Linked DNA regions of Homo sapiens: all the other regions are linked to region 2. The links come from fine-mapping of genetic effects on gene expression. A gene starts in region 2. Each other region holds a variant in brackets. All regions are shown on one strand. Distances are from middle to middle. Region 1 has its middle 33 kb from the start of ZNF239. Region 2 holds the start of ZNF239 (zinc finger protein 239). Region 3 has its middle 45 kb from the start of ZNF239.

Region 1 (7,645 bases), 33 kb before region 2:
AACAAGGGAAGACAACCATAAGGTCTGACTGCCTGTGGGGTCAGGCAAAATAGAGCCATATTTTTCATCTTTCAGAGAGCCTATAAAAGGATGTGCAAGTAGGGAAGATATCACTAAATTATTTTCCTAGCAAGAAATATTAATAAATAATACCCTGGGGAAGGAATGCCTTCCTTGCGGGAGGACTATAAGTGGCCGCTCTCGGAGTGTCTGTCTTAGGCAGTCTCTGAGATAAGGACTGAAATACGCCCTGGTCTCCTGCAGTACCCTCAGGCTTACTAGGATTGGGAAACTCCACCATGGTAAATTTGTGGTCAGACTGGTTCTCTGCTCTTGAACCCTGTTTTCTTTTGTTTAAGATGTTTATCAAGACAATATGTGCACAGCTGAACATAGATCCTTATCAGTAGTTCTGATTTTGCCCTTGTCCTGTTTCCTCAAAAGCATGTGATCTTTATTCTGCCTTTTGTCCTTTGAAGCATGTGATCTTTGTGACCTACTCCCTATTCGTACACCCCCTCCCCTTTTGAAATCCTTAATAAAAACTTGCTGGTTTTGTGGCTCAAGTGGACATCACAGTCCTATCGATATGTGATATCACCCCCAGAGGCCCAGCTGTAAAATTCCTCTCTTTGTACTCTTTCCTTTATTTCTCAGCCAGCCATCACTTATGGAAAATAGAAAGAATCTACATTGAAATATTGGGGGCTGTTTCCCCCGATATTTTTCCTTCCTTCTTTCTTTTCTTTCTTTCTCTTTTTTCTCTCTCTTTCTTCTTTCTTTCTCTCTCCTTCCCTTCCTTCCCCTCCTTCTCTTCTCTTCTCTTTCTTTTTTTCAGAGTCTTGCTCTGTCTCACAGGCTGGAGTGTAGTGGTGCCATCTTGGCTCACCACAACTTCCACCTCCCAGGTTCAAGCAATTCTCCTGCCTCAGCCTTCTGAGTAGCTGGGATTACAGGCGTGAGCCATCATGCCCAACTAATTTTTGTATTTTTAATATAGACAGGGTTTCACTGTGTTGGCCAGGCTGGTCTGGAGCTCCTGACTTCAGGTGATCCACCTGCCTCAGCCTCCCAAAGTGCTGGGATTACATGCATGAGCCTCCTCTTTGTCTCTTTGCCTTCTTTCCTTTTTTCCTTCCTTCCTTCCTTCCTTCTTTCCTTCCTTCTCTCTCTTTCTTTCTTCTTTCTCTCTCTCTCTCTTTCTTTCTTGTTTTAAGACAGAATCTTGGCTGGGTGCGGTGGCTCATGCCTGTAATCCCAGCACTTTGGGAGGCTGAGGTGGGTGGATCACGATGTCAGGAGATTGAGACCATCCTGGCTGACATGGTGAAATCCCATCTCTACTAAAAATACAAAAAAAATTAGCCAGGTGTGGTGGTGGATGCCTGTAATCCCAGCTACTCGGGAGGCTGAGGCAGGAGAATGGCATGAACCTGGGAGGTGGAGCTTGCAGTGAGCTGAGATCGCACCACTGCACTCCAGCATGGGTGACAGAGTGAGACTCCATCTCAAAAAAAAAAAAAAAAAAAGAGTCTTGCTCTGTCACCCAGGCTGCAGTGCAGTGGCACAATCTTGACTCACTGCAACTCTGCTTCCCAGGTTCAAGTGATTCTCTTGCCTCAACCTCCTGAGTAATGGGATTATAGGCATGTGCCACCACACCTAGCTAATTTTTGTATTTTTATTAGAGAGGGGGTTTCTTCATGTTGGGCAGGCTAGTCTTGAACTCCTAGCCTCAAGCCATCCACCTGCCTCAGCCTTCCAAAGTGCTGGATTTTGGGTGTGAGCCACTGTGCCTGGTCTCACATAGCCTTTCTTTGGTGCTTCAGTGCAGAGAGAGAGAGAGACAGAGAGCTCCCTGATGTCTCTCCCTATAAGGATACCAATCCTATCAGAGCCGGATGCCACCCTTATGACCTCATTTTACCTTAGTTGCATCCTTAATTGAGGATGTAATTTGGAGGCAGAATCTCCAAATACAGCTGTATTGGGGATTATGACTTCAACATAGGAGACGCAAACATTCAGTCCATAACAAAAGCTTAAAATGAGCCTTTCAGGCCCCAATTACTCAGCCTTTTCTCCTCCCATTGGAGCCTCTATCTCTTCATCTATAAGTGGGTAGAATTATCTATATCTGGAAGAGTGGAACTAAGCCTTGAACAAACCATTATTACTTGTCTAATGTGTGCCCCCTGCCTCGTGCTCAGTGGGTCCAGGAGAGGGAGCTCAGATGTTAAGGCTGCACAAGTACAGCTTAGCGCCTGGGTGCCATCATGTTCTGTGGTCTCAGAGTAACATTCTGTTAAAGAGAAAGGGAAATTGAGAGAGATTAGGAACCACACTCAGTCTCCGTGGAGTGTTAGGGCCCTCATGTCTTCCTCAGCATTGATAGTTCCTGGGTTCATGGCTGATATGGTCAGGATGTGTGTCCCCTCCACATTTCATGTTGAAATATGACCTCCACTGTCAGAGGTCGGGCCTAGTGAGGTACTGGATCATGGGGGCGGATCCCTCATGAATGGCTTAGCACCATTCCCTTGGTGATGAGTGAGTTCTTGGTCAGTTCTCTGGAGAGCTGAGTGCCGGTTGTTTTAAAGAGTTTGGCCCCTCCTTCCTCAGGTCTCTCTTCTTCCTCTCTTGCCATGTGATGCACTGGCTCACCCTTTGCCTTCCAGCATCATTGGAAGCTTCCTGAAGCCCTCAGCAGAAGCTGAGCAGATGCTGGCACCATGCTTCCTGTACAGCCTGCAGAACCATGAGCCAAGTAAGCCTCTTTTCATAAATTACCAGCCTCAGCTGTTCCTTTATGGCAATGCGATAATGGGCTAACACAGTGGCCCTGGGCTCAGGATTAACAAGGCTGTGCTAGCACCAAGCAATCATACTGGAAGGCTGAGGTGGGAGGATCACTTGAGCTGCGGAGGTCAAGGCTGTGATGAGTTTCCTGGAGTCAAATGATTCTCATGCCTCAGCCTCTTGAGTAGCTGGGATTATAGGTCTGCACCATCACACCCAGCTAATTTTTGTATTTTTAGTAGAGACGGGGTTTCACCATGTTGGCCAGGCTGGTCTTGAACTCCTGGCCTCAAGTGATCCTCCTGCTTCAGCCTCACAAAGTGCTGGGATTACTGGCACAAACCACTGTGCCTGGCCCAAGTAATTGTTTTGTATTGATTGAATTTTTCTTTGTTTCTTACACTTCAGTTTAGATTTTAGGGTATATGTATACTTATAAAAAAATGAGATCATGTCTTAAATATTCTTTCTTTTTTGAGACAGAGTCTTGCTCTGTTGCCCAGTGCCCAGGCTGGAGTGTATTGGTGTGGTCTCGGTTCACTGCAACCTCTGCCCTCTGGGTTCACGCGATTCTCCTGCCTAAGCCTCCCAAGTAGCTGGGATTACAGGTGCTCACCACCATGCCCGGCTAATTTTTGTATTTTTAGTAGAGTTGGTAGAGACAGGGTTTCACCATGTTGGCCATGCTGGTCTCAAACTCCCGACCTCAAGTGATCCACCTGGCTCAGCCTCCCAAAGTGCTAGGATTACAGGGGTGAGCCACTGTACCCAGCCAATGTTCTTGTGTAACTT[G/A]CATTTAAAATTTTGTGATATGCTGTGAACTCTTTCCATGCCCCATTCTATCTTGAAAATATGCTTAATGGCCAAATATTTTTCCACTTTTCAAAACTGCATTTGGGTTTACCCATATCCTATATTTTGACATTTAGACAACTTCTGCTTTTGCTCGTGTAGGGGATTATTCCATTAAAAGTAGACAAGATAATTTTGATCAACCTGTGTAATAAAGAAAATGGACAAAGCTGAAAAAAATATTTTAGGCTGGGTGCAGTGGCTCTTGCCTGTAATATCAGCACTTTGGGAGGCCGAGGCAGGCGGATCACATGAGGTCAGGAGTTTGAGACCAGGTTGGCCAACATGGTGAAACCCCATCTCTACCAAAAATACAAAAAATAGCCAGGCTTTGTGGCACATGCCTGTAATCCCAGCTACTGGGGAGGCTGAGGCATGAGAATCACTTGAACCCAGGAGGTGGATGTTGCAGTGGGCCAAGATGCATCAATGCACTACAGCCTGGGTGACAGAGTGAGACTCTGTCTCGAAAAAAATAAAAATACTTTCAACATTCTTTCTAAGCACATAAATAATAAGACAGTGATCACTGGGGTATGATGTAAAAAGAATGGGAATTCCATGTCAGCACAACGTATGAGGCTGCCTTTGCTCTGGAGACTCAGGCTGACCTGAGAGAGGTAATAGGCTGAGGTTTGCTTTTAAGGGTGTTGCAGGGATGATGGGGCAGAAAGAGACCTCTGTGGCCCATGGATGAGATGGACCAGGATACCTCTGCCTTGACCGGACCCTTGGAAGATTCTGTACAGGTAGCATGAACAAAAAGAAAATCAGCCTTCCCACAAATTGCAGTGGACTTCAAGATGTTTGGAAAGCCCAGAACATTCTTCAGCCCTGAAATCTCCTTTTATTTTTATTTTTTTTTTTGAGATATGGTCTTGCTCTGTTGCCCAGGCTGGAGTGCAGTGGTGTGATCATGGCTCACTGCATTCTCAACTTCCTGGGCTCAAATGATCCTCCCAAATAGCTGGGACTACAGGCATGTGCCACCATGCCCAGGAATTTTTTTTTTTTTTTTTTTTTTTGTAGAGATAGGGTCTGTTGTCCAGTTGCCCAGGCTGGTCTCAAACTCTTTGACTCAAGCAATCCTCCTGCCTTGGCCTCCCAAAGTGTTGGGATTATAGGCATGAGGCACTGCACCTAACACGAAATTCCTTTAAAGATATCAAGGAGTGTGTCCCCCGTTAGCAGCAAGAAAAATTCCTCTGGAGGAGGAAACATCATCTTAGGTCTCTCTCTCTTCTTTTTTTTTTTTTTTGAGACGGAGTCTCGCTATGTCATCCAGGCTGGAGAGCAGTGGTGTGATCTCGGCTCACTGCAACCTCCACCTCCCAGGTTCAAGCAATTCTCTGCCTCAGCCTCCAGAGTAGCTGGGATTACAGGAGCCCACTACTATGCTTGGCTAATTTATTTTTATTTTTATTTATTCATTTATTTTTGAGACAGAGTCTTGCTCTGTCCCCCAGGCTGGAGTGCAGTGGCACAATCTCGGCTCACTGCAATCTCTGCCTCCTGGGTTCACGCCATTCTCCTGCCTCAGACTCCCAGGTAGCTGGGATTACAGGTGCCCACCACCACGCCCGGCTAATTTTTTGTATTTTTAGTAGAGACAGCGTTTCATCGTGTTAGCCAGGATGGTCTTGACCTCCTGATCTCGTGATCCACCCGCCTTGGCCTCCCAAAGTGCTGGGATTACAGGAGTGAGCCACCACACCTGGCTTCTTTTTTTTTTTTTTTTTTTAGAGCTAGAAGAGAACATCATACACATAAATTCATTGCATTATACAAATAAACACCTGATTGACAGATCACATCATGTGAAATTTATATAGAAAATAATTGATACAGGTTATAATAATTTATGCAAAGATAATATTAGAAAAATTGGAAAAGATTAAATTATGCAGAATTGAAAATTCACTTAAGAATAAAAGAGGCATCTGGGAGGTGAGGAGTGCCTCTGCCCGGCCGCCCCGTCTGGGAAGTGAGGAGCGCCTCTGCCCGGCTGCCCATCATCTGGGAAGTGAGGAGCACCTCTGCCCGGCTGCCCATCATCTGGGAAGTGAGGAGCACCTCTGCCCTGCCACCCATAGTCTGGGAGGTGAGGAGCGCCTCTGCCTGGCTGCCCTGTCTGGGGAGTGAGGAGCGCCTCTGCCCGGCTGCCCCGTCTGGGGAGTGAGAAGCGCCTCTGCCTGGCTGCTGTGCAATCTTCCAAGTGTGAAGTGACAGCCTTTCTGCAGGTGTACCCAACAGCTCCAAAGAGACAGCGACCATCAAGAACGGGCCATGATGACGATGGCGGTTTTGTCGAAAAGAAAAGGGGGAAATGTGGGGAAAAGAAAGAGAGATCAGATTGTTACTGTGTCTGTGTAGAAAGAAGTAGACATAGGAGACTCCATTTTGTTCTGTACTAAGAGAAATTCTTCTGCCTTGGGATGCTGTTAATCTATTACCTTACCCCCAACCCCGTGCTCTCTGAAACATGTGCTGTGTCCACTCAGGGTTAAATGGATTAAGGGCGGTGCAAGATGTGCTTTGTTAAACAGATGCTTGAAGGCAGCATGCTCGTTAAGAGTCATCACCACTCCCTAATCTCAAGTACCCAGGGACACAAACACTGCAGAAGGCCGCAGGGTCCTCTGCCTAGGAAAACCAGAGACCTTTGTTCACGTGTTTATCTGCTGACCTTCTCTCCACTATTATCCTATGACCCTGCCACATCCCCCTCTCTGAGAAACACCCAAGAATGATCAATAAATACTAAAAAAACAAACAAACAAACAAAAAAAAAGAGGCAGCAGGGCACTGTGGCTCACTGTAATCCCAGAACTTTGGGAGGCTGATGTGGGTGGATTGTCTGAGGTCAGGAGTTCAAGACCAGCCTGGCCAACATGGTGAAACCCCGTCTCTACTAAAAATACAAAAATAAACTGGGCGTGGAGGCAGGCGCCTGTAATCCCAGCTACTCGGGAGGCTGAGGCAGGAGAATCGCTTCAACCCAGGAGGTGGAGGTTGTAGTGAGATGAGATCACGCCACTTCACTCCAGCCTGGGCGAAAGAGCAAAACTTTGTCTCAAAAAATAGAATAAAATAAAACAATAAAATAAAATAAAATAAAATAGGCGTCACTGTTTTGCTGCAGAAAATCCTCTTTCAAAGCAAATTCACTGGTATTGGTATAATTCTGATAAGTGTGTTTACATTTCTAAATGTTTTCAAACATTCTGGTATCCAAATGCTGTGTCAAAAGATGCTAAAATGTCTTGTGCCACCCACCTTCTTACTACAATCTTACATACTTTCATTGTGCCCCATAATGATCTTCATGGATGCTATATCCATTTATAATTCCATGGGTGAGGCCAGGCACAGTGGCACTGTAATCCCAGTGCTTTGGGAGGCTGAGGCAGGAGGATCACTGGAGTCTAGGAGTTTCAGTTTGCAGTGAGATATGATCACGCCACTGCACTGCAGCCTGGGTGACAGATCCAGACCTTTTCTCAAAAAAAAAAAATCCATAGTTGCATTGTTCATTATTTAATCAATCTCTATTTTATTGTGAAGACAGGAGTGGTCACCATAGTTTCCACAGCACAAAGGACACGTTTTCCTACATGCCAAGTACTCTTTAAGTGTTGAGGTGAATCTGTGAAGTAGTTTAATGATTGCTGTCCCTTATTTTTATAAACATTTGCATAAACAGAGCTTCTAAAAATTGCAAGTAACTGAGGTTTGCTTTTGGAGTACAAAGAGTCATCAATGCTTGGGTGTTTGCAAAAATATTACCTAGGCAGGACATCCAGGTTCCATCTCATAGGGTAGACACTAATGGAAAGAGGGACTTGTAAATCACTTAATGAGATGGGATTTAATTAGAGTCACCAGTTGTTACATCTAGCAATCCCACCCACCCTCCCTTCCAAATCTAGCTATTTTTTCCTTTGAGAATTATCACTGCAGAACTTGTTCATCAACTAGTATATATCTGGTTCTT
Region 2 (7,645 bases):
TGTAGTACAATTTTTGTCATCTTCCAGTCCCTAGGTTAGACAACCAGAGTTATTAATTTTTTAAGGTCCTCAAGATAAAATGGCAGGCGGGACTCCATTCTGAGAAGGGAAAGGATATGTTGGTGGACTACTAACTTTGTGGTAGGTAAAAAAAATGACAGGAGTAGACCAAATGAAAAGAATCATTGTGACAAGGGAAAGGAGAAAAGGAAAGGAAATTAGTGCTCCTGTTAAAGCAAGACAAAGGTGGGACTGAAACACTGAATAATCAACAGTCTTCCCAGGTATCAGTGGCACTAAGGAGTCACTCCAAGGCTGTGCTCCTGCTTACAGTTGGGAGAGCAGACTTGATATTCTAAAGGCCAACCAAAGAGGAAGGTCACAAGTTCAATTGTTTCCTGTTTCTATCAGACAAATGTCGACCTCCTCAGAACTACATACATGCCATCATGTGGCCTTCCACTTCTTTCTAGAGCCCATCTCTGCTGTATCTAACAATTTACTTTGAAGTGGAAAAGCAGGAAGAGGCACACTAGATTACCTGGAGTCATTCAACACATTACACTTGAGTCTAGCACAGTCCTTTCTATAGTAAGCCCTAACTTATTGAGTTCTCCCATCCATTTTGGAGCTTTCAGTCTCAGGACAATAGCCTCTTTCTGAAGCATGAGGATGAGTTAGAATTCTCCTCCTCTGAGATCTCATAGCATCTTTCACATCCCTCTACTATAGCTATTAAGTCTCTCCCAAGTTGGCTGGAAGATTCTGAAGGATAGGGGCTACACTCAACTCATCTTTGTTGTTTGAAACAGAGTCTCACTCTGTTGCCCAGGCTGGAGTGCAGTGGCATGATCTCAGCTCACTACAACCTCCACCTCCCGGGTTCAAGAGATTCTCCTGCCTCAGCCTCCCGAGTAGCTGGGATTACAACAGGCATCAACATGACCAGCTAATTTTTGTATTTTTAGTAGAGATGAGGTTTCACTATGTTGGCCAGGCTGGTCTCAACTCCTGACCTCAGGTGATCCTCCCCACTCAGTCTCCCAAAGTACTGGGATTACAGGTGTGAGCCACCATGTCTGGCCTCAACTCATCTTTAAATCCCCAGCAACTACCACAATTGACTTGGAATCTGAAAGATAAATATAAATTCACATTCAATTTAAATGAATAATAATACAACTAAAAGAAAACATAAAGATGGTCAAGCCCAAGACCCTCAGTTTACAGAGAAAAAAACCACAGTTCATAAGGGCGAAGTGACTTACCCAATGTCACAGAGGAAAAGCAGGGTTAACTAAGACTCCCGCCTTTCAGCAGACCTAAGGACAATGTGTGGTACATAGAAAACACACAATGCTTGGAATGAAGTCCTTCCTTTAAATTAAAAAAGTTGTTGTGTAACACACACCAGAATCTCAAAATTTACTAAACTGGCAATCCCCAGTTGCAGCGGCAGTGAATACTTAATCATTAGGGAGCAGGCAGAAGCGAAGGAAGGAAAATGTATTGATTCTACTAAGGTTAATCTCCCTTGAAGTCCTCAATTACTTTTCAGGGCACAGAGAAGCCATGCTCTCAGTACCTCAAGTCAGCTTACTGTCCTCTAAACAGATTTTTTCTAAGAGCTCATGTGTGTGAGGGCTGTATTTGCCAAGCAAAAAGATGGCCTTTGCTGGTAGTGTTAAAAAACATTTTTTTTCCCTTAAAACGCAGTCTGATATTTTATTCAAACAACTTCTGATGTGATGACCTGTTTAGTTAATGGAGAAAGAACAGCCTGAAGGAAGAAAACACGGGGTTTATTTCTGGCCTTCTGCTCTCTGAAACAAAGGACAAGGCACTTTCCTTCGGCTCTCTCAGAGTTAGCCGAGTTAGAGCTCTCCACCATAAAACGCCAGGACAGGGCAAAGAGGGGGCCGACCATCTCAAACACCATGGGATTCTAAGTGGGGGCTGACCATCTCAAATACCCTGGGAGTCTAAGGGTTAATTTTGAGGTAACCTCCTACAGATGGTTTTATGGGGACAACTGAAAACTCTCTTTAAAAAAGTACGACTTGGTAATTTAAAATTTACTGGAACAGTTAAATATGTAGACATGCTAGTGAAAGAGAACAAATCAACCTGAGTATAAAGGATGAATAACTCATTTTACCTACCCTAGAGACACTTATAGTGTATAGAGAGATATTTCACAATAAACCTTTGGATGTACAAAGATCAACAGAATAAAAAAGGAGTGAAACTCTCCTTTCACTAGGTCTGGAAGAGAGAAGGAAGCTTAGTTCTTAAAAAACACCACAGAGAGTTCTGATGCATAGCCTAGTTGAAAAGCATTTCTAGAGTGATTTTGTAACCACTGTGCTGCCATTTAACGAATTTCCTCGTTTTTGACTCATAGTTAATAAATTATCACTATTAATATGCATTTTTTTGTGTACAGGTAATATAATATGTTCATCAAGATGGTAAGCTCCTTGAAGAAAAGCACCGTGGTTTATCATTCTATCTGTTTTGCTGAGACCACTTAGCACTGGGATGAGTATGGAATAGCTTGGAATGACTTTCAATGTGAGTGAAATGTCTGGCAGGAAAAGGCAGGCTTTGAGAGGCTCCCCAGGAGGGCACAGCCCACTGCTCTGAGGAGTGGAATAAATTCTTGGAGGCAGGATGGGCCAGTGAAAACTCTCTGTGCAGACCCTGGTGACATCATCTGCTAGCTACATGTCCTTAGTATCTTAATGTCCCTACATCCATAGCTATAAAATACCGTACTGGGGGCCTGACAATAAAGAAAACAACACATGGCACAGGGACATTTCAGGGAGATGGCATTTTAGGAGAAATGGAACGCCAACTCACCCGGACCCTGGTCATTTCTTACTCCCAGAGGGGATGGATTCCTGGAAAGGCAGAGTTAGGGAAAGAGAAAAAGCCATGAAAATCAAGTCCAGCAAGACTGCGGGGAAAAAGTTACTCCGCTCCTGCCTCTGACGCTTCTTCAGTCACTTCCACCCACACTCCCTCCATCAGGTGAGAGGTGAAGCATTTTCTGTCACCACCTTCATCTCTCTCCACAGGGCTTTCGATTAAACAAGCCAAGTTTTCCCCCCAAAACCAAGAGGCTAGGTAAATTCCGCAGCCGCCGGCAGCTCGAAGCCGTGCCCATTTCCTCTGACTTTCCCGATCTCTGTCCTAAAGTTCTAGTTAAGAGGAGAAGCTTCTCGGGATGGATTTCGGTTGCCCAAGACGCCTTCCCCGACCTCATTCTCAGGAGCCTGGCTCGTTCCTGCGGTGCGGGGGCTCAGATGCAAGCTCTTTTCAGCGAAGGCAGTGCTGCGGACAGAAACCTCAGTCTCTTACAGGAGCCCCCGTCCGTCGCCTAACGTCCACCGAAAACCCCCCTGCAATAACGCCCGTCACAGGCGAGGAAAAGGCCGGCGTGGCCAACCACGAAGCCCCCAGCCGGCCCAGGCCAGAGCTCGGCCAGGAGGGAGGAGGGGCCATCGGAGGCGCGGCCGCTCAGCTGCAGGGCCCCACAGGCTTCGGTGTGGCCGCAGCCCGGCCCCGGGGGCGCAGCAGCTCGGAAATGCGGCGCCGGGACACACGTGCCGCCGCGGGCCGCGCCTCCGCTGGTCGCGTGCCCTACCATCGCCGCCCTCCCGGCTTCCGCAGCTCGGCGGCCCAGCGCCTTACCCGCGGCACACCCATTTCCTGACCCCTGAACGCCTCTGCCAGCGGCTGGGGAAGCCCGGCCAGTCTCACCTCCCACGTGGAACCCCACGCCTGCAGGGGCCAGATTCCGGATGCTGACCGCTCGCGCGCCTAGGGCCCCGAAATACAAGTCCCAGCAAGCCGCGGGCGAACCACGCCCACTTCCGGCGCGGGCCCCTGAACTCTGCGCTGTGCGGAGCGGGATTCTTGGGCGGAGGGGACCATCTTTGAGTCAGCGACGCGTGTATTCAAGTCCTCCTCCTCGTTTTTTATTACAAACAAATAAGAATTATTTTAGGAATACCTGTTAAGGTGATTTTCATTTGTTAAAATACTATTGGGGGAAAAGGATGTAAATACCCATAATTTCATCTTTACCTTTCAAAACATTCTGAAGTGAATATTTGCCATTCGGCATCTTCCATCTCACCTCTGAAGTTCATCCATTTAACAGATATTAATTGAGAGCCAACTGTGTACCAGGAGCTGTTCAAGATGCTTGCACAAAAGTCACTGCCCTATTCTAGTTGGGGAAACAAGCAATCCATAAATATAGTAAATATATGGCGTCGTGTGTGTCATGAGGTGGTACTGAAAGCATAGAGCTGGGCGGGGTGTGGCGAGGTGCGTTTGTGGGTGTGTAGGACTGGAGGTGTACTTTGCAATTTTAAATAGGGGATCTTGGAACAAACACAGGAGGTGAGGGAATTAGACAAGTGGCTCCCAGCAGTCAGAACTCTCCTAAACGCACACAAGGGTTGTTGATACCAGGATTTTACGTTTATTTCACTTCTCACCGAGTGACACAGAGCTACCCATTTGGTCTTTTCCCAATTCCTTTCTTTCAGATTTATTTTGGAGAGGAAAGAGATGTTGCCTGGACCTCTCTTCTACATCCTCCCCCTTCCTTGGTGTATTAGTTTCCAATTGCTGTCACAACAAATTAACACAAACTTAGTAGTATAACAAACATGTATTCTCTTAAACTTCTGGAGGTGCCAAGTCTGAAATCAAGTTTTACTGGGCTTTATAAAGTCAGTGTTGGTGGGGCTAGTTCCTCCTGGAGGTTCTAGATGAGAATATTTCTTTGCCTTTTCCAGTTCCCAGTGACTATTTGCATTCCTTGGCTTATGGCTCGCTCCTTTATCTTCAAAGTGCATGACTGCAACCTCTGCCTTCATCATCACATCACATGCTCAGGCACTGGCTCCTCGTGGGTCCTTCTAATAACGACTGTTGTGATTACATCAGGCCCAGCTGGCTAATCTGGGATAATCTCTTGACGTCAAGATCCTTAATTTAATCACATTTCAAAAAAAATCCCTCTTGCCATAGAAATTAACATCCACAGCTTCTGGGGGTTAGGACATGGACATATTTGGGGGACTATTATTTTCAGCCTGCGATGCTTGGAGAGGCCCACGTCCCCTTCGGTCTCCTCCTCAGAGATGCTGTCTTACCTTTTGCCTGGGGAACACAAAATGTCTCCCTTGGACCTTACTCCTCTCCTCATTCTTCATTGGAAAACCACAGAGCTTTTCCCTATTTAGATTTACCACCCTTGCCCTGACCTTCACTTCCTCATGTGCTCACTTCTCTCCTCACTCAATTTAAGAGGCCATGGAGCATGGTTATGGCCAGTCCTGTGTATGTGCCGTTACCCTTAACTCTCTTGTCCCAGTCTTTCTTGGTTTTATTCTCTTGATGGAAACCCAAATCTGCTTGAATCCAGTTCCTGGCCTGCGCCTGTACGGCAGAGGTTGTTTGAGAAAACCACATGGCTGGGATGATTGGTTTCATTTTCAGTTTATAACCATTAAGTTCAAGTGGGCCCTTCACGCTGCCTGGCTATCCTTCTACATTTCTTAGTCCATCCATTCTCCTAAATGACTATTTCACAGGTTCTACTCTCTTTTCATTATTTATTTATTTATTTTTTTGAGCCAGGCTGGAGTTCAGTAGTGCGATCTTGGCTGACTGCAATCTCTGCTTCCTGGGCACAAGCAACCCTCCCACCTCAGCCTCCTAAGTAGCTGGGACTATAGGCTTGCGCCACCACACCAGGCTAATTTTTGTATTTTTTTTTTTAAGAGATGAAGTTTCACCATGTTGTTCGGGCTGGTCTCCACCTCCTGGGATCAAGCGATCGTCCCACCTCAGCCTCCCAAAGTGCTGGGATTACAGGCTGAGCCACCATGCCTGGTCTTCTACTCTCTTTTCAAGCCGCCAACAACTCCTCCCATCTCACTGAGTGCTGATGACTTTGCTTTCTGTTACTGAGTAAAGAGAACTTCTATACCGCCTCACAGGCACATCTGCCCTCCTCTCTGCATTAGAAACTGTATGCTCTACTTTTCATTCTGAGTCACTGGCCCTAGTTCCTATATGAGAAAATTCTTTTGCACCCTGGATGTTAAATGCTTTCTCATGAATGAGGTCCTTCTCTCTCTTCTGTATTTCAAGATTTTCATTCTGTACTGAATTATCAGCATACTAATGAATACACTGTAATATTGTCCATAAAATAAATAAAACCCCTTACCTTGCACCCTATTTCTCTCCAGCCACTACCTCATTTCTCTGCTTTGCTTTACAGCAAAACTCCTAAAAAAATTGTCCCTAAGGGATGTTTCCAATTTCTTTTCTCCCATATTCTCTCTTTTTTCACATGCAAAACCCAAAATTTAATTTTTAACTTAATTTTAAAAATTGGTATATAATAGATGCACATATTTTGGGGGTACATGTGATAATTTGATTAATATTATGTGTAAAGATCAAAGCAGGGAAATTGGGATATCTATCGCCAAGTATTTGTCTTTTCTGTATGCCGGAAATATTCAAATGATTCTCTTCTGGCTATTTTGAAATGTACAGTAGGTTAATGTTAACCATAGCTAACCTACTGGTTTATTGAACACCAGGTCTTATTTTTTCTGTCTAACTGTGTATTACACCTTGGTATGTTTTGGCTCTGTGTCCCCACCCAAATCTCATCTTGAATTGTAATTCCCACGTGTTGAGGGAGGGACCTGTAATTCCCACAAGTGGAGGGAGGGAGGTGATTGGATCACAAGGGGCAGTTTCCCCCATGGTGTTCTCATGACAGTGAGTGAGCTCTCACAAGATCTGATGGTTTGTGAGATATGTTTGGAAGTTCCTCCTTTGTTCTTCTCTCTCCTGCCACCTTGTGAAGAAGGTGACTGCTTCTTCTTCCAACATGATTGTAAGTTTCCTGAGGCCTCCCCAGCCATGTGGAAGTGTGAGTCAATTAAACCTCTTTTCTTTATAAATTACCCAGTCTCAGGCATTTTTTTATAGCAGTGTGAAAAAAGACTAATACATACCCCTTAACCAGCCTCTATTCAGACCCCTACCTCTACTCTTTCTGAACTCTGGTTACCACCAATCTACTCTCTATCTTCATGAAATCCACTTGTTTTTTTGTTTAGCTCCCACGTATGAGTGAGAATATGCAATATTTGTCTTTTTGTGCTTGGCTTATTTACTTAACATCATGGCCTCTAGTTCCACCCATATTGCTGCAAATGACAGGATTTCATTCTTGTTTATGACTGAATAATATTCCGTTATGTACATACACCACATTTCTTTATCCATTCATCCATTGATGGCCACTTAGGTTGATTCCATATTTTGGATATTGTGAATATTGTTGCAGTAAACATGGGAATGCAGATAGCTCTTTAGTATATTGATTCCTTTTCTTTGGGATATATACCCAGTAGTGGATTTGCTGGATCATATGGTAATTCTATTTTTAGTTTTCTGAGGAGCCTCCATACTGTTCTCCATAGTGGTTGTACTAATTTACATTCCCATCAACAGTGTACAATGATTCCCCTTTCTCCAAATCCTCGCCAGCATCTGTTATTCCCTGTTTTTCAGATAAAAGTCATTTTAACTG
Region 3 (7,645 bases), 45 kb before region 2:
AATTGAGACTAAAAACTTCCTTTAGAAATATTATACTAAAATTCTTGTTTCTGATATACCAAAATTTTATTGAAAATATTCAGTTACAGACATACTGTGTACTAGGAATCTAACTTCAAAAAGCACAATTAGGTCGAATAGTCATAAATACACCAAATACAAATGCAAAGTGTCATAATGTTGTGTGAGTGTGCTTTATTTTTATTTTTTATTTCATTTTATTTTATTTTCTGTGTTCCGTAAAACTTTACTTACTCAAGTCCAACAGAGCTTAAAGGTTAAAAAAAAAGTACTTACAAAGACAGGCAGCGGGCTGGACTTGGCCTACAGCCACTAATTTGCTGACCTCTGTGCTAAAATCAAGGTGCTGCTAATGCAATCAATACTTTTTAACAGCACCTTACATGCACGCCATTATCCTTCAAAGGCAGACATTTGGCTGGGCGCCGTGGCTCACGCCTGTAATCCCAGCACTTTGGGAGGCCGAGGTGGGCAGATCACGAGGTCAGGATATCGAGACCATTCTGGTTAACACGGTGAAACCCTGTCTCTACTAAAAGTACAAAAAAAATTAGCCAGGCGTGGTGGCGGGTCCCTGTAGTCCCAGCTACTCAGGAGGCTGAGGCAGGAGAATGGCGTGAACCTGGGAGGCGGAGCTTGCAGTGAGCCGAGATCGCTCTGCTGCACTCCAGCCTGGGCGACAGAGTGAGACTCTGTCTCAAAAAAAAAAAAAAAAAAAAGGCAGACCTTTATGCTACATGCTTTCATTTTGATTTTTCAAATGTTCAGTTTGCAGCTTACAATACAAGCGCTGTAAGGGAATAATATCTTGTGGGACTCAATACAGAACTTCAATGTTAAAGCAATTTTTCATTGTGTTAAAGCACAGAAGTGTGAATAAGGCCAGTATAATGGGAAGAAATAATTCTACCCAAATACATCCTATAGTAATAAATCTGCAATCAAGAAATCCACTTGGGTGTTGGAGTAAATGGCCTTGAACAGAAAGAACTAGTATCTAGGAAATGCATAATCATATAAATAAAAATTTCTAAAATAAAGCAAAAGGTTACATTTCTAAGCCTTAAAGTATTTTTCTTTCTTCACACTTGAATTTTTATTCTAAGTGACTGAACAAAAAATACACCATCAAGATGAAAAGGCAATTCAGAAAAGAAATACAAGCACCTAGCAAATAAGTGTAAATATATGCAATCTCCAAAAAAAGTAAATTATAACCAGAAGAAAGAATCGGTTAAAAAAAATTAGGGTGCATATAATTTGCATTCGAAGCTTTCCCTTACAAGCCTGAATCCTCAGTACCAGATCTTAATCTTCTATATCTCAGGTCAGCCCCTCCAAATATAGCTGCCTCATCAGATATTTCAGTTTAGATCTGGCCAGATGATCAGGCTATTCCCCTAACTAGTGTGGGCCACAAAAGACTCAAGTGACATTGAGAAAAATCAGAGAAGATGAACCAGGCTTGGTAGCTCATGCCTGTAATTATCTGGAGGCTGACTGGGGAGGATTGCTCGAGCCTGGGAGTTCAAAGCCATCCTGGGCTCACAAAAAAATGGTGGGGGGCAGGTGGGAATTTTGATGCTTAAATTCCTTGGTTCCTTCTGTAGTGGATTTCTTCTTTTTTTTTTTTATTATACTTTAAGTTCTAGGGTACATGTGCACAATGTGCAGGTTTGATGCATAGGTATACATGTGCCATGTTGGTTTGCTGCATCCATCAACTCATCATTTACATTAGGTATTTCTCCTAATGCTATCCCTCCCCCAGCCCCCCATCCCCTGACAGGCCCTGGTGTGTGATGTTCCCCTTCCTGTGTCCAAGTGATCTCATTGTTCAATTCCCACCCATGAGTGAGAACATGTGGTGTTTGCTTTTCTGTCCTTGTGATAGTTTTTTGAGAATGATGGTTTCCAGCTTCATCCATGTCCCTGCAAAGGACATGAACTCATCATTTTTTATGGTTGCATAGTATTCCATGGTGTACATGTGCCAAATTTTCTTAATCCAGTCTATCATTGATGGACATTTGGGTTGGTTCCAAGTCTTTATTATTGTGAATAGTGCCACAATAAACATATGTGTGCATATGTCTTTATAGTAGCATGATTTATAATCCTTTGGGTGTATATACCCAGTAATGGGATTGCTGGGTCGTATGGTAATTCTAGTTCAAGATCCTTGAGGAATCGCCACACTGTCTTCCACAATGTTTGAACTAATTTACACTCCCACCAACAGTGTAAAAGTGTTCCTATTTCTCCACATCCTCTCCAGCATCTGTTGTTTCCCGACTTTTTAATGATTGCCATTCTAACTGGCAAGAATGGTATCTCATTGTGGTTTTGATTTGTATTTCTCTGATGACCAGTGGTGATGAGCATTTTTTCATGTGTCTGTTGGCTGCATAGATGTCTTCTTTTTTTTTTTTTTTTTGAGACGGAGTCTTGCTCTGTTGCCCAGGCTCGAGTGCAGTGGCGTGATCTTGGCTCACTGCAAGCTCTGCCTCCCGGGTTCATGCCATTCTTCTGCCTTAGCCTCCGGCGCTTGCCACCATGCCCAGCTAATTTTTTTTGTTTTGTATTTTTAGTAGAGACAGGGTTTCACCATGTTAGCCAGGATGGTCTCGATCTCCAGACCTCGTGATCCACCCGCCTCAGCCTCCCAAAGTGCTGGGATGACAGCCATGAGCCACCGCACCCAGACAGATGTCTTCTTTTGAGAAGTGTCTGTTCATATCCTTTGCCCACTTTTTGATGGGGTTGTTTGTTTTTTTTCTTGTAAATTTGTTTGACTTCTTTGTAGATTCTGGATATTAGCCCTTTATCAGATGGGTAGATTGCAAAAATTTTCTCCCATTCTGTAGGTTGCCTGTTCACTCTGATGGTAGTTTCTTTTGCTGTGCAGAAGCTCTTTAGTTTAATTAGATCCCATTTGTCAATTTTGGCTTTTGTTGCCATTGCTTTTGGTGTTTTAGTCATGAAGTCCTTGCCCATGCCAATGTCCTGAATGGCATTGCCTAGGTTTTCTTCTAGGGTTTTTTATGGTTTTAGGTCTAACATTTAAGTCTTTAATCCATCTTGAATTAATTTTTGTATAAGGTGTAAGGAAGGGATCCAGTTTCTGCTTTCTACATATGGCTAGCCAGTTTTCCCAGCACCATTTATTAAATAGGGAATCCTTTCCCCATTTCTTGTTTTTGTCAGGTTTGTCAAAGATCAGATGGTTGTAGATGTGTGGTGTTATTTCTGAGGGCTCTGTTCTGTTCCATTGGTCTACATATCTGTTTTGATACCAGTACCATGCTGTTTTGGTTACTGTAGCCTTGTAGTATAGTTTGAAGTCAGGTAGCTTGATGCCTCCAGCTTTGTTTTTTTTGCTTAGGATTGTCTTGGCAATGCGGGCTCTTTTTTGGTTCTATATGAACTTTAAAGTAGTTTTTTCTAATTCTGTGAAGAAAGTCATTGGTAGCTTGATGGGGATGGCATTGAATCTATAAATTACTTTGGGCATTATGGCCATTTTCACAATATTGATTCTTCCTATCCATGAGCATGGAATATTCTTCCATTTGTTTGTGTCCTCTTATTTTGTTGAGCAGTGGTTTGTAGTTCTCCTTGAAGGGGTCCTTCACATCCCTTGTAAGTTGGATTCCTAGGTATTTTATTGTCTTTGTAGCAATTGTGAATAGGAGTTCACTCATAATTTGGCTCTCTGTTTGTCTGTTATTGGTGTATAGGAATGCTTGTGATTTTTGCACATTGATTTTGTGTCCTGAGACTTTGCTGAAGTTGCTTATCAGCTTAAGGAAATTTTGGGCTGAGATGATGGGGTTTTCTAAATATACAATAATGTCATCTGCAAACAGGGACAATTTGATTTCCTCTTATCCTAATTGAATACCCTTTTTTTCTTTCTCTTGCCTGATTGCCCTGGCCAGAACTTCCAACACTATGTTGAATAGGAGTGGTGAGAGAGGGCATCCCTGTCTTGTGCTGGTTTTCAAAGGGAATGCTTCCAGTTTTTGCCCATTAAGTATGATATTGGCTGTGGGTTTGTCATAAATAGCTCTTATCATTTTGAGATATGTTCCATCAACACCTAGTTTATTGAGAGTTTTTAGCATGAAGGGCTGTTGAATTTTGTCA[A/G]AGGCCTTTTCTGCATCTATTGAGATAATCATGTGGTTTTTTGTTGTTGGTTCTGTTTATGTGATGGATTATGTTTATTGATTTGCATATATTGAACCAGCCTTGCATCCCAGGGATAAAGCCCACTTGATCGTGGTGGATAAGCTTTTTAATGTGCTACTGGATTCAGTTTGCCAGTATTTTATTGAGGATTTTTGCATTGATGTTCATCAGGGATATTGGTCTAAAATTCTCTTTTTTTGTTGTGTCTCTGCCAGGCTTTGGTATCAGGATGATGCTGGCCTCATAAAATGAGTTAGGGAGGATTCCCTCTTTTTCTATTGATTGGAATAGTTTCAGAAGGAATGGTACCAGCTCGTCTTTCTAGCTGTGGTAGAATTCAGCTGTGAATCCGTCTGGTCCTGGACTTTTTTTGGTTGGTAGGCTATTAATTATTGCCTCAATTTGAGAGCCTGTTATTGGTCTATTCAGAGATTCAACTTCTTCCCGGTTTAGTCTTGGGAGAGTGTATGTGTCCAGGAATTTATCCATTTCTTCTAGATTTTCTAGTTTATTTGCATAGAGGTGTTTATAGTATTCTCTGGTGGTAGTTTGTATTTCTGTTAGATCAGTGGTGATATCCCCTTTATCATTTTTTATTGTGTCTATTTGATTCTTTTCTCTTTTCTTCTTTATTAGTCTTGCTAGTGGTCTATCGATTTTGTTGCTCTTTTAAAAAAAACCAGCTCCTGGATTCATTGATTTTTTTGAAGGGTATTTTTGTATCTCTATATTTTTCAGTTCTGCTCTGATCTTAGTTATTTCTTGCCTTCTGCTACCTTTTGAATTTGTTTGCTCTTGCTTCTCTGATTGTTTTAATTGCGATGTTAGGGTGTTGATTTTAGATCTTTCCTGCTTTCTCTTGTGGGCATTTAGTGCTGTAAATTTCCCTCTACACACTGCTTTAAATGTGTCCTAGAGATTCTGATATGTTGTGTCTTTGTTCTCATTGGTTTCAAAGAACATCTTTATTTCTGCCTTCATTTCGTTATTTACCCAGTAGTCATTCCAGGGCAAGTTGTTTAGTTTCCATGTAGTTGTGTGGTTTTGAGTGAGTTTCTTAATCCTGAGTTCTAATTTGATTGCACTGTGATCTGAGACACAGTTTGTTGTGATTTCTTTTACATTTGCTGAGGAGTGCTGTACTTCCAATTATGTGGTCACTTTTAGAATAAGTGCTATGTGGTGATGAGAAGAATGTATATTCTGCTGCTTTGGGCTGGAGAGTTCTGTAGATGTCTATTAGGTCTGCTTGTTGCAGAGCTGAGTTCAGGTCCTGCATATCCTTGTTAACCTTTTGTCTTGTTGATCTGTCTAATATTGACAGAGGGGTGTTAAAGTCTCCCATTATTATTGTGTGGGAGTCTAAGTCTCTTTGTAGGTCTCTAAGGTCTTGCTTTATGAATGTGGATGCTCCTGTATTGGGTGCACATATATTTAGGATAGTTAGCTTTTCTTGTTTAATTGATCCCTTTACCATTATGTAATGGGGTTCTTTGTCTCTTTTGATCTTTGTTGGTTTAAAGTCTGTTTTATCAGAGACTAGGATTGTAACCCCTGCCTTTTTTTGTTTTCCATTTGCTTGGTAGATCTCCTCCATCCCTTTATTTTGAGCCTATATGTGTCTCTGCACATGAGATGGGTCTCCTGAATACAGCACACTGATGGGTCTTGACTCTTTATCCAATTTGCCAGTCTGTGTCTTTTAATTGGAGCATTTAGCCCATTTACATCTAAGGTTAATATTGTTATGTGTGAATTTGATCCTGTCATTATGATGTTAGCTGGTTATTTTGCCCATTAATTGATGTAGTTTCTTCATAGCATCGATGGTCTTTACAATTTGGCATGTTTTTGCAGTGGCTGGTACTGGTTGTTTCTTTCTATGTTTAGTGCTTCCTTCAGGAGCATTTGTAAGGCAGGCCTGGTGGTGACAAAATCTCTCAGCATTTGCTTGTCTGTAAAGGATTTTATTTCTCCTTCACTTATGAAGCTTAGATGGATATGAAATTCTGGGTTGAAAATTCTTTTCTTTAAGAATGTTGAATATTGGCCCCCACTCTCTTCTGGCTTGCAGGGTTTCTGCCGAGAGGTCTGTTCTCTGATGGGCTTCCCTTTGTGGGTAACTCGACCTTTCTCTCTGGCTGCCTTAACATCTTTTCGTTTGTTTCAATCTTGGTGAATCTGACAATTATGTGTCTTGGGGTTGCTCTTCTCGCGGAGTATCTTTGTGGTGTTCTCTTTATTTCCTGAATTTGAATGTTGGTCTGCCTTGCTAGGTTGGGGAAGTTCTCCTGGATAATATCCTGAATAGTGTTTTCCAACTTGGTTCCATTCTCCTTGTCACTTTCATGTACACCAATCAGATGTAGATTTGGTCTTTTCACATAGTCCCATATTTCTTGGAGGCTTTGTTCGTTTCTTTTTAGTCTTTTTTCTCTAACCTTGTCTTCTTGCTTTATTTCATTAATTTGATCTTCAATCATTGATACCCTTTCTTCCACTTGATTGAATTGGCTATTGAAGCTTGTGCATGCGTCACGAAGTTCTCGTGCCATGGTTTTCAACTCCATCAGGTTATTTAAGGTCTTCTCTACACTGTTTATTCTAGTTAGCCATTTGTCTAATTTTTTTTTTAACGTTTTTAGCTTCCTTGCGATGGGTTTGAACATCCTCCTTTAGCTCCGAGAAGTTTGTTATTACCGACCTTCTGAAGCCTACTTCTGTCAACTCGTCAAAGTCATTCTCCATCCAGCTTTTTTCCATTGCTGGCGAGGAGCCACAATCCTTTGGAGGAGAAGAAGCACTCTGATTTTTAGAATTTTTAGCTTTTCTGTTCTAGTTTCTCTGCATCTTTGTGGTTTTATCTACCTTTGATCTTTGATGATGGTGACCTACAGATGGGGTTTTGGTGTAGATGACCTTTTTGTTGATGTTGATGCTATTCCTTTCTGTTTGTTAGTTTTCCTTCTAACAGTCAGGTCCCTCAGCTGCAGGTCTGTTGGTGTTTGCTGGAGTTCCACTCCAGACCCTGTTTGCCTAGGTATCACCAGTGGAGGCTGCAGAACAGCAAATATTGCAGAACAGCAAATATTGTTGCCTGATCCTTCCTCTGGAAGCTTTGTCCCAGAGGGGCAGCCACCTATACGAAGTGTCTGTTGGCCCCTACTGTGAGGTGTCTCCCAGTTAGGCTACATGGGGGTGAGGGACCCACTTGAGGAGGCAGTCTGTCCGTTCTCAGAACTCAAACACTGTGCTGGGAGAACCACTGCTCTCTTCACAGCTGTCAGACAGGGACGTTTAAGTCTGCAGAAGTTTCTGCTGCCTTTTGTGCAGCTACGCCTTGCGCACAGAGATGGAGCCTAGAGGCAATAGGCCTTGTTGAGCTGTGGTGGGCTGTGCCCGGTTTGAGCTTCCGGGCCACTTTGTTTACCAA

What was found. PIP is the estimated chance that this variant, and not a neighbour inherited with it, causes the effect. A credible set is the group of variants that fine-mapping cannot tell apart.
Region 1: its variant is the best candidate, but not a certain one, in a credible set for the expression of ZNF239 in whole blood (TOPMed, PIP 0.66).
Region 3: its variant is the best candidate, but not a certain one, in a credible set for the expression of ZNF239 in whole blood (INTERVAL, PIP 0.73).

What each region holds. Positions count from the first base shown.
Region 1 is chr10:43,538,229-43,545,873 of GRCh38, forward strand. No RefSeq gene overlaps it. Among named protein-coding and RNA genes, the nearest start is that of ZNF239, 33 kb to the right of the region's middle. RefSeq lists an enhancer at 5,966-6,479. The variant G/A (reference allele first, on the strand shown) is at 3,592.
Region 2 is chr10:43,570,772-43,578,416 of GRCh38, forward strand. It overlaps ZNF239 (zinc finger protein 239), which reads right to left and starts at 3,845. Exons shown (of 4, transcript NM_001099282.2): 1 at 3,769-3,845; 2 at 2,866-2,906. RefSeq lists a silencer at 3,568-3,627.
Region 3 is chr10:43,525,526-43,533,170 of GRCh38, forward strand. No RefSeq gene overlaps it. Among named protein-coding and RNA genes, the nearest start is that of ZNF239, 45 kb to the right of the region's middle. The variant A/G (reference allele first, on the strand shown) is at 4,171.